2 separate regions of the Homo sapiens genome follow, and region 2 is linked to region 1. A link means that fine-mapping ties the variant in region 1 to the expression of a gene that starts in the linked region. Tissue or cell type: whole blood. Region 1 holds a variant in brackets; the other region holds the start of a gene. All regions are shown on one strand. Distances are from middle to middle.

Evidence for each region. PIP is the estimated chance that this variant, and not a neighbour inherited with it, causes the effect.
Region 2: GBA1 starts here. The variant in region 1 is fine-mapped to the expression of GBA1 in whole blood (TOPMed, PIP 0.95).

What each region holds. Positions count from the first base shown.
Region 1 is chr1:155,975,405-155,980,404 of GRCh38, forward strand. It overlaps ARHGEF2 (Rho/Rac guanine nucleotide exchange factor 2), which reads right to left and starts at 3,143. Exons shown (of 22, transcript NM_001162383.2): 1 at 2,961-3,143. The coding sequence starts at 3,023. ARHGEF2-AS2 (ARHGEF2 antisense RNA 2) reads left to right here and starts at 3,235. Exons shown (of 3, transcript NR_183460.1): 1 at 3,235-3,290; 2 at 3,916-4,051. RefSeq lists enhancers at 518-777, 920-1,421, 1,538-1,617, 3,748-3,817, 4,279-4,900 and 1 more and silencers at 3,138-3,297, 3,358-3,407. The variant C/G (reference allele first, on the strand shown) is at 2,480.
Region 2 is chr1:155,238,440-155,243,439 of GRCh38, forward strand. It overlaps GBA1 (glucosylceramidase beta 1), which reads right to left and starts at 2,810. Exons shown (of 11, transcript NM_000157.4): 1 at 2,647-2,810; 2 at 2,191-2,278; 3 at 1,447-1,638; 4 at 1,177-1,323; 5 at 78-211. The coding sequence starts at 2,673.

The DNA.
Region 1 (5,000 bases):
CCCCATCTAACCTCCTGCAAGTCACTCAGTGACTTCCCTAAGCTTTAGACTCCCTTCCCCTATCCTCACTTCTCCCCTCCCCCTCAACTCTCTCCCTAACCTCCACGACCCCTAGAATTTTTGTCTATGTCCCCAGAAGCCTCAGCCACCAGGAGGACCCCCCATTCTTCCACTCTCCTCCAACACCGTCAGCCCTCTCAGCTCCCTCCTGGGCTCCCCCAGCTCTCCTCTCCACTGCACTCCTAGTCCTGCACACAAAGCCAGCCACCTCTCCATTCCTCAGAACAAAGAAATAGTCGCTCTGCACACTCCCCACTCCACCTGCCCACCACAGAGATTCCAAGGGGACCCCCAGCCTCCACAGCCATCCCTGGACCTCTGGTCCCTGCTTGGCAGAAAAGGACCCTTTGTTCTAAGGGATATGATGGTTGGGGTTTGGGAAAGGAGAAAGGGAAGAACAGGGGACTAAAGAGAGAAAGGGGACCTGTGAGGTTTGGGGCTTGTGGAGGTAGGAAGTAGAGCAGAGAGAACAGAGGAGGTGGAGGACTGAAGACAGCCTGGGAGAACAGAAATGGAGTGAAAAGAAAAAGGAAGCATGGAGGGGGCTACACAGAGAGATCCTGTGAGGATGGGACAGAGAAAGGGGCAGGTTAAACTTACATTCCTCCTCCTAGGAGGAGCTCCCAGGGAATGAGGCAAGGAATGGGGAGGGGCTGAGGTGTCAGGGCTTAGCTGTGACCCATCCCCCCAAGGAGGTAGCAGGGGACACCATCTTCTTCAAATAATGTCTTTTCCAGCGGGTGCCCCTCTACTTCCCACCACAGTATAAAAAGAAAGGAGACAGCTGGTGTGCTGGGGGGAGGGGGAGAGGGGATCCAGGGTTTGTTGGCTAAGAACCAACTCCCCCTTCTGTAACCACAGTTTTCCGGAGGTGGCCCTCCCCTTCCGACCGGCCCAAACTGACAACCACCCTTCTCCGGTGGCCTCTTTGCCCTCTCAGATCCACCCACTCAGCCCCCGACTCCCTGCTGCCAGCCAGATTCCCAAATTACCTGCCCCACACAGCCAGCCCCCATAGTAGAAAGAAGAGCCAGTCCCCCCACCACCAAAAACAAAAACAAAAACAGAGCATGAACACCCAGATGTCTGACGTCCCAGCTCCCCACAATAATGGAAAAGGGATCCCAGTAGCTACCTGCCCCCACAGAACCGCTCTCTATACCCCCTAGCCAGGTCTTCCCCCAACCAGCTCCCCCATGGCTTTCCTTTTTAGGGTGGAACCAAATTTCTGCGGTTTCAAAAAACCTCCCCCGCCCCCCTTGGCTCTACTCCAGGGTCTCAGCTCAAACGGTTGAAAAAATAAACAGACTTTTGGAGCTGGGGCCTGGGCTGGCGCAGGCTGTGAAGAGCCTGTCTGCCACCCCACTGTTCCACCACACTTCAGCCACCTCACCCCGGCCCTCTGTTTGTCTTAGGCCCTACTCGAATCCCCAGTTGCTTTCCAGATAGCAAAATCTAATCCCAACCCCCTAAGGAAAGTCCTTTTAAAGCTGCTTTCCCTGGCCCTCCACCCCCAACCCAGGATGGAACCTCTGTCTCTCCCAGTTTAGCATCAAGACAGGTAGCCTGGCTAGGAACTACCAGGGAGGTGGAGGGGAGGGCTTTCCATCACCCTTAAGGACTCCTAAGGGGTACTGCTCCCTTGGCTGAAGTTGGTGATCAGCATAGGCTGGCACCAGGGTAGTAGGGCACTCAGGTTGGAGAGAAGCCAGAGATTAAACCAACTCTGGGCTGGGACCTGTCCTTTCTGATAATGGGTACAGTGCGGGGGCCCCAAAGGAGCTGGGAGGTGCTGTCTGCAGGCACCACCTTCCTTTCAGCTCTGACTTATTCACCTGCAAGTCAGCTTCATCATTTCCTGGGGTCTGGGTGTGGAAAGGTCAGGGCACTTGGGAATGGGGCTGGGTACAAAGGCAGGGATAAAGGGTACTTGGAGAGGAGTGGCCAAGAGGTCATGATGGGGGAGGCGTGTGGATAATTATACACCCAGACTCATGAAATGCTAGGTGAAGGGACCCCAAGACGAGCAGATAAGAGAATGAGAGCGCTGGGGGAGGAGGAGGAAGGGCAGGGAACACAATGCATAGTGCCAGGTGTGTCAGCCTAAGGGTTTCAGGTTGGGAGAAGGAAGAGCTAGGAGGCTGGCGGGGCAGATAGGGATGGAGGCCCTATGTTCCAGGCAGAAGGGCTCAGGATGGAGGAAAGGAGCCCAGCTACACAAAGACCTCTGCTCCCTTCACCTAGAGGTGATGGTTTGGGGGAAGTAAGCCGTCCCTCGGCCGTCCCGACCCCAGCCACCCGCCCACCCAGAGGGGAGAACTGAATCACAGCTGGAAAGTCCATTTGCGAGGAGAGGAGGAGCTGACTTTTGTCTTGGAGGGGTGGTGGTGGTGGTGGGAGGAAGCCGGGAAACCACCCC[C/G]TCCCGTCCCCTCCGCCGGATGGCGGGGACAAAGGGGGAACGACCAAGCCAGCGATTGGGGAGTGATGGGGGGTCGCCACGCCAAGCCCAAGCCGGTGGGGCCCGGGGTGAGAGGAGGTGCCGGAGCTTCCACCGCCCCCACCCGCGAGACACACACCTCCCTCTTCCCGCTCCGTCCCTTACCGGAGCAACTTTCTTTCAAGCGGCCTAAAGCACTCGGTCCCGCCGGCTTGGAGGCGACCAAGCCCAGGTCCGCTCCGCTCCCTCCCGGGATCCCAGCACCGTCGCGTCTGCCGCTCCCCCCACCCCTACCCACTCGCTCGCAGTCCCCACCCACCCCGTCCCGCCGCTCGCCGATCCACCGCTCCGCCCGATTTTGGCGCCCAGAAAGCAGGCGGGGAGACAGGAGATGCACCGCGGGTGCCGGGGTTCGGGGAGCACCCGAGGACCGCGGCGAAAGGAGAGGGGTTTCCGAGCCCACCTTGCTCGCCAGCTCTCTGCTCCGGTCGATCCGCGCCCGCGTGAGGGATTCGATCCGAGACATAATCGGACGGGGGGACCAGGGAGGACGCGGCGCGGACCCCGGCGTCCTGTATTGTTGGGGGAAGGCGGGGGGAGGGGTTCGGCCCGCACGCGTTGGTCTCGGGGACAGGAAGTCTGACTCCCCTCGCCCGGCACCCAGCACCAGTTCCTCAAACCCGAGTCTCCTCCCCCGCCCAAGCTCAGGAAGGGGGTAGGCGGAGCGGAGGGAGGGCGGGGTGCCCGCGCGCAGGACGGGACGCCAGGGTTTGTGTGGGGGCAGCTCGGAGAGGTACGAGGGTCCTAGGACAGGTTTGAGAGGCCCCTCTGCCTATTTCCCCTCCAGCGCCTGGGGGCGCCCTCTAGCCCCAGAGACCCGCCTCTTAGCTCTTCTTTTCCTAAAACCCAGCCCCGCAGCCCTCGCCGGACCCAGGTTGGCCCTTTCCCCTCTGCCCTCCCCTTCTTCCCTTCTCCCCTCGCCCTCCCTTTTTCCCTCCCCTACTGCGTTACCTCAGTCTTTAAAGACCCGCAGGCAGGAGAATTCCATCCGCCCCCAGCTCTTAGAAAACCCAGGACCAGTTCCTTCCTGGCCTTCGGGGTCCCATCAAAGCAGGCCTGAGCAGACTGACCCCTTTTACGATTGGGGGCAGGGGTGGCCAGAGGGAGAGGAAATCAAAGGAGAACTAAACGCTGGATCTTCAGTACACGGGAAGGGTAGGATTCACTCCCAGAGGTCGAAGAACAGAGAGGAGAGAATTCTCCCACATGCCCCACCCTTCTGGGGCCTTCCTGACCCCACTCTGCCCTCCTCCTAGCTCCGCCTCTGCCAGCTACTTTGGGGGACTAGGTTGGGATTCTCCACTTTTACCGAAGGCCTTCCATGTGTCTAACTGCAGTTCTCTCTGTTGCAAGTTAAGCCGGAACTGAAAGACCAGAAACCAGCCTGCCCTAGTCAAAGAAAGTTAGGGCCCAACCAGCCTCTCCCCAAGAAGCAGGGTAAGGTGGGGCATTCATCTCTCTGGACCCTTTTCCCCAGCCTGAGCCAGCCTTTGGGTGAGTTTCCTGCTATTGGGAAAATTCCTCCTCCAGTCTAACTATGATCACTTACAGTGAAGTTCATTTCTGCCTCTCAGGGTCTCCCATTTCTCTGGAGAAACCAGAAGCACAGAGAGGCCTGGGACAGAGCCTTCGGTTAGCAGGGTCCTGCCTGATTCTGGCCCCAAAGGGCGTGGGAGAAGAAGGGAGGGAGGGGAGACCCAACCCAGATCCAGCAGTTCTCTGCCCTGGCTCAGCAGTGGGGCCAGGCTGCAGGTTTCAAGCCCAACTCAGCACTCTTGTAGGTGCCAATTTTAGCCTCTGCCACTATTTTTGGGCTCCACTACCTCACCACTGGCTGAGCTGGTTGGGCTCCTCACCCCCAGCACTACCCCCACACTGCCCCTCCGGCTTCCCCTCCTTCCTAGCAACTCCTTCACCTCCTTCTTCACCCATTCCCCTGTTTAGAATCCTTAAATAGCAAAGACCAGGAAAAAGGAAGAGGAAATAAACCGTGCCCAGTTCAGGCTGGATGGACATTAGAAAGCAGGAAGGACTTCCCCAGGGCCACAGCTTGTTCTTCCTGGCTTGCACCTGCCAAGTATACCTACGGGGAGGGTGTAGGAACTCCCCCAAACCAAGAGGCCTGAGGCTCCTGGCCCCAGAACTCCAGACTCACCTCCCCTGAGGTGGGCAGCCAAGACTCAGGAATGTACTAAATTTAAAAACAGACAGCCAGAGGCTAGAATCTTGGCCTCAAGGTTCCACCCACTGGAGGCCCAGAGACAAGATCTGGGGTGGGACCTCAGCTTCTCTCCCAGGCCTGGGGCAGGAGGGTGCTGCAAGCTATGGATAGAATCTTAAAGGGCCACACTCCAGCCTGGGTACCCAGGAAACATAGAATTTGAACCCTGGGGTTTTTCAAGCGACCTCATGGTCCCTCAACTCAACTAAGAAGGTCTCTATG
Region 2 (5,000 bases), 740 kb before region 1:
ACAAGCAGACCTACCCTACAGTTTCTCAACCCCCAGACATCAGGGCCCTCAGGGCCTGAAAAAGCTAGAATGCCTACCTTGAGCTTGGTATCTTCCTCTGGGAGGCTGAAGTTGTGCAACTGGAAATCATCAGGGGTGTCTGCATAGGTGTAGGTGCGGATGGAGAAGTCACAGCTGGCCATGGGTACCCGGATGATGTTATATCCGATTCCTACAGAAAAGGATGATCAAGATATGGTAGTCCGAGTCAATAGGAGAGTATGGGACTCTGCTTATCACTTGCCAGTCCTAATAGTGTCTGAGTCAGGGCCAAAGGGAACTTGGGCTCCTGGGTTGGAACCTGTGGAGGCTGGCACCTGGGTGAAGCGCAGGCCTTTCTGAGCCTGAGTCCGTAGCAGTTAGCAGATGATAGGCGGTGAAATCTTATTTCACAGGGCATTAAAACAGGAACCAAATGTCAGGGATGGGCAGAAGTCAGGGTCCAAAGAAAGGGCAAAGAAAAGTGTCAGTGGCTCACGCATGTAATCCCAGCACTTTGGGAGGCCGATGTGGGCAGATCACGAGGTCAGGAGTTCGCAATCATCCTGGCCAACATAGTGAAACCCTGTCTCTACTAAAAATACAAAAAATTAGCCGGGCGTGGTGGCAGGCACCTGTAATCCCAGGTACTCGAGAGGCTGAGACAGGAGAATCACCTGAACCCGGGAGGTGGAGGTTGCAGTGAGCTGAGATTGTGCCACTGCACTCCAGCCTGGGTGACAGTGCGAGACTCTGTCTCAAAAAAAAAAAAAGAAAAAAGAAAAGTGTCTGCTGGGCTCGGTGGCTCACACTTGTAATTCCAGCACTTCGGGAGGCCAAGGCAGGTATATCATTTGAGGTCAGGAGTTTAAGACTAGCCTGGTCAACATGATGAAACCCTGTCTCTACTAAAAATACAAAAATTAGCCAGGTGGTAGTGGCGCACGCCTATAATTCCAGCTACTCAGGAGGCTGAGGCAGGAGAATCACTATAGCCTGGGAGGCAGAGGTTGCTGTGAGGGGAGATCACACCACTGCACTCCTGTCTCGCCGACAGAATGGGCAGAGTGAGATTCTGCCTCAAAAAAATTTTAAAAAAAGAAAAGAAAAACGAAAAGTTTCAATGGCTCTATGTCATCTTGTCCCCTTCCTCCTCACCTTCTTCAGAGAAGTACGATTTAAGTAGCAAATTTTGGGCAGGGGGTGACAGGGCAAGGATGTTGAGAGCAGCAGCATCTGTCATGGCCCCTCCAAATCCCTTCACTTTCTGGAACTTCTGTTCTGGCTGCAGGGTCAGTAGCAGGCCTGAGGACATCCACAGGGAATAAGGGTATCAGTACCCAGCGGGAAACTCCATGGTGATCACTGACACCATTTACCTCTAGGAGGACCCAGCCTGGCCCAGGGGGTGAGGGGTGTAATGGTTACCTGTGCCCGTGTGATTAGCCTGGATGGGCCCCATACTCAGCTCCATCCGTCGCCCACTGCGTGTACTCTCATAGCGGCTGAAGGTACCAAGGGCAGGAAAGGTCGGGGGGTCAAAGGAGTCACAGTATGTGGCATTGCAGACACACACCACCGAGCTGTAGCCGAAGCTTTTAGGGATGCAGGGGCGGGCACCTGGGAGGGAGGGAGTACAAGCAGAGTGAGGTCTGATGAAGACATGGAGAATGGACACATCTGCTAGGAGAGACTGAACACGGTTTCAAAATTCCTCACCCCTTGGCCGGGCGCAGGGGCTCACACCTGTAATCCTAGCACTTTAGGAGGCCGAGGTGGGCGGATCACCTGAGGTGAGGAGTTTGAGACCTGCCTTGCCAGCATGGTGAAACCCCGTCTCTACTAAAAATACAAAAATTAGCTGGGCGTAGTGGTGGCCGCCTGTAATCCCAGCTACCTGGGAAGCTGAAGCAAGAGAATCGCTTGAATCTGGGAGGCAGAGGTTGGAATGAGCCAAAATTGCACCACTGCACTCCAGCCCAGGCAACAGAGTAAGACTCTGTTTCAAAAGAAAAAAAACAAAATCCTCACCCCAAAGTTGGTCTCAGTCACTCAAAAGGATTTATTGAGCACCTACTAAAAGTCTACCACCAGCTTACTGGAAGGCTACCAAAGGACTATGAGGCAGAAGGGAGGCTCTGTGCTACCTCCCCACTGCCTTGACTCACTCACCTGATGCCCACGACACTGCCTGAAGTAGAAGCAATCCTGTGAGGCTGCCAGCCATGATGCTTACCCTACTCAAAGGCTTGGGACATTCCTGAGGACAGAATGAGGAATGACTGAAAAGCAAGCCCCTCTCCACCCCTCAACTACTCTCCTGGGCAGGGCTTAGCTGCCTTTGGGTGCCCATGGCCCGGTCTCCCACATTCATTAGGACAAGGCCCACAGAAACCTGGGTGCAGCTCTCCCTGCAACCCTTCTGATGACAACTCTCTGCCCACCCCAAATCAGGATGCTCCCCACCACTCTTCCCACCCATTTCAACTTCGACCCCTCCCTCCATCTGTGCCTTGCTCAAAGAGCCATGATGGCCCTGGATTCAAAGAGAGTCTGTCATTCATTAAATTCCAGTGCCAGGATTCCAGAAGCACTGTGACAATGCTGATTGGGAGCTCTCTCTCTTACCTCTCTGGAAGGACTTGAAAACTCCATCCCCTCAGGGTCATTAGATGAAGAGAAGACCACAGGGGTTCCAGAGTCTCTGAAGGATAGAGGATCCACTAAACAAAAACAAGGATGCAGGTACCTGCCTTAGCTATAGGCACTAGGTTAGCCCTGCAAGTAATTCCGGCTTCCCGATGTGGATGGGTCATGTGATGACTAGGAGCGTCACATGACACAGGAAGTGAGGCAATCACAGCCATATTTCTAAAGGGCAATTGGCTTCCTCTCATCTGTTACAGATTATATGCCCTATAAAACTCTGGAGGGCATGTATGGGTGACAACTTTAGGAAGAGCCTAGAACACAGATTTGCATGGAGAATGGGGTAGAGGCTCCTAAATCCCAGAGGATGGGAACCACAGCAGGCACACTTCTTTTTTGATAGAAATGTCAAAAAGGTACAAATAAAGCTGATATAATTTAAAAAAAAAAACTTCACTGTGCAAAATACTGACACTACCAAGATGTTTAAGACAGTCTTTGCCCTATAGAGGTGTGTGAGGCATGGAAGTCAGACACACAGATATTTACAGATAAAGACAGAAACGGTAACAGGTGTGCATGGAGAGCTCTCTGAGATGAGGAGGGACCATTCGTGGGTGGGGAATTATCCAGGATGGCTTCACAGAGGAAAAAGTGAGGGGGGTTATTAGCCAGTGAAGTGCAGGGCACAAGAGGGTGGGACACTGGCAGTGGGATGACAGGACTGGAGGGAGGGAGTGGTCAGTGCGGCTCCTCTGCAGCGTCCCTTGTTTCATCATCAGATGCAGATGGTAATAACTGTTCTTCCTTCCTCACAAGACAGGGAGGTTTGTAAAGTCGTTCAAAAACCAAAGTGTTGTACAAAGCCATATCCTCAGTGGACACAAGGAGGAAGCTGTCCATGGTGTGGCCTCATGAACCACATCAAATGAGATTTAGCGGGAGTGGCACACACAGTCATGACCTGACTAATCCCAGCTCTCAGCCCATTTCCTTGCCTGGAAAATGGAGGCAATGCCACAACCTCAAAGGGTGGTTACTGCAGTCAGTGAGGTAAGTGCAGTGCCTGACCACTTGGTAGGCACCTGGGAACTACTTGTCTCTTGTTTGTATTTTTTGTTGTTGTTGTTTTTTGAGACAGAGTCTCACTCTGTTGCCCAGGCTGGAGTGCAGTGGCGTGATCTTGGCTCACTGCAACCTCCACCTCCTGGGTTCGAGTGATTCTCCTGCCTCAGCCTCCCAAGTAGCTGGGATTACAGGTGCCCTCCAACATGCTCAGCTAATTTTTTTATTTTTAGTAGAGATGGGGTTTCACTATGTTGGCCAGGCTGGTCTGAAACTCTGGACCTCAGGTGATCTGCTGCCTTGGTATCCGAAAGTGCTGGGATTACAGGCATGAGCCACTGCGCTGGACCCCAGCCATCCTTTTTGTTCTTTAAATGATCTCAGTGAAGTCTTTCTAGATACACTCCAAGCAAAATTGATCATTTCTTCTTCTAGGTTCCTCCAGTAATTTTTTTTTTTTTGGTTTTGAGACAGAGTCTTGCCCTGTTGCCCAGGCTGGAGTGCAGTGTGATCTCGGCTCAAGCAATTGCCCTGCCTCAGCCTCCTGAGTAGCTGGGATTACAGGAGCCCACCACCATGCCCAGCTAATTTTTGTATTTTTAGTAGAGATGGGGTTTCACCATGTTGGCCAGGCTGGTCTCGAACCCCTGACCTCAGGTGATCCACCAGCCTCAGCCTCCCAAGGTGTTGGGATTATAGCAATGAGCCACCACACCCGGTCCCTCCAGTAATTAAGTACAGTCTCAGTGAGACAGCAAGTTTGGAATCCTGGCTACACCATTTACTGGCTGTTTGACTTTCAATAAATCAATCACTCTAAGCCTCTGTTTCATCTATAAAAGGGGAGTGATAACTCCTACCTCACAGAATTGTTGTGAGGTTTGAGTGTGATAATGTGTCTCTAGTACACTGCTTGACACTAAACATTGCAACATGTCAGGCCTCTGTTCCTGGAGTTCCTTGAAGGAATGTCTTATGCATTCTAAGTATCCTCGTAGATAGCCTGGCACAGGGGTAGCTGTCAAGTTGTAGAATTGAACTAGTTGCTTCACTATGTCAGTAGCCACCCCTTCCAGACTTCTCACTTTTCAAGGAAACATTGCACAGGATTTGTTCTGGGTAGGGCAGGTAATATCTAGTACCTTACTTCCCTCAAGTTCATTCATCTCACAGATATTTCCTGAGCACATTCTACATTTGCCTCTCCTGCTCTATTGAGTTTAGAAGTCCAAACATCTCCTTCCACTTCCCCTCTGCATAGTGAGCCT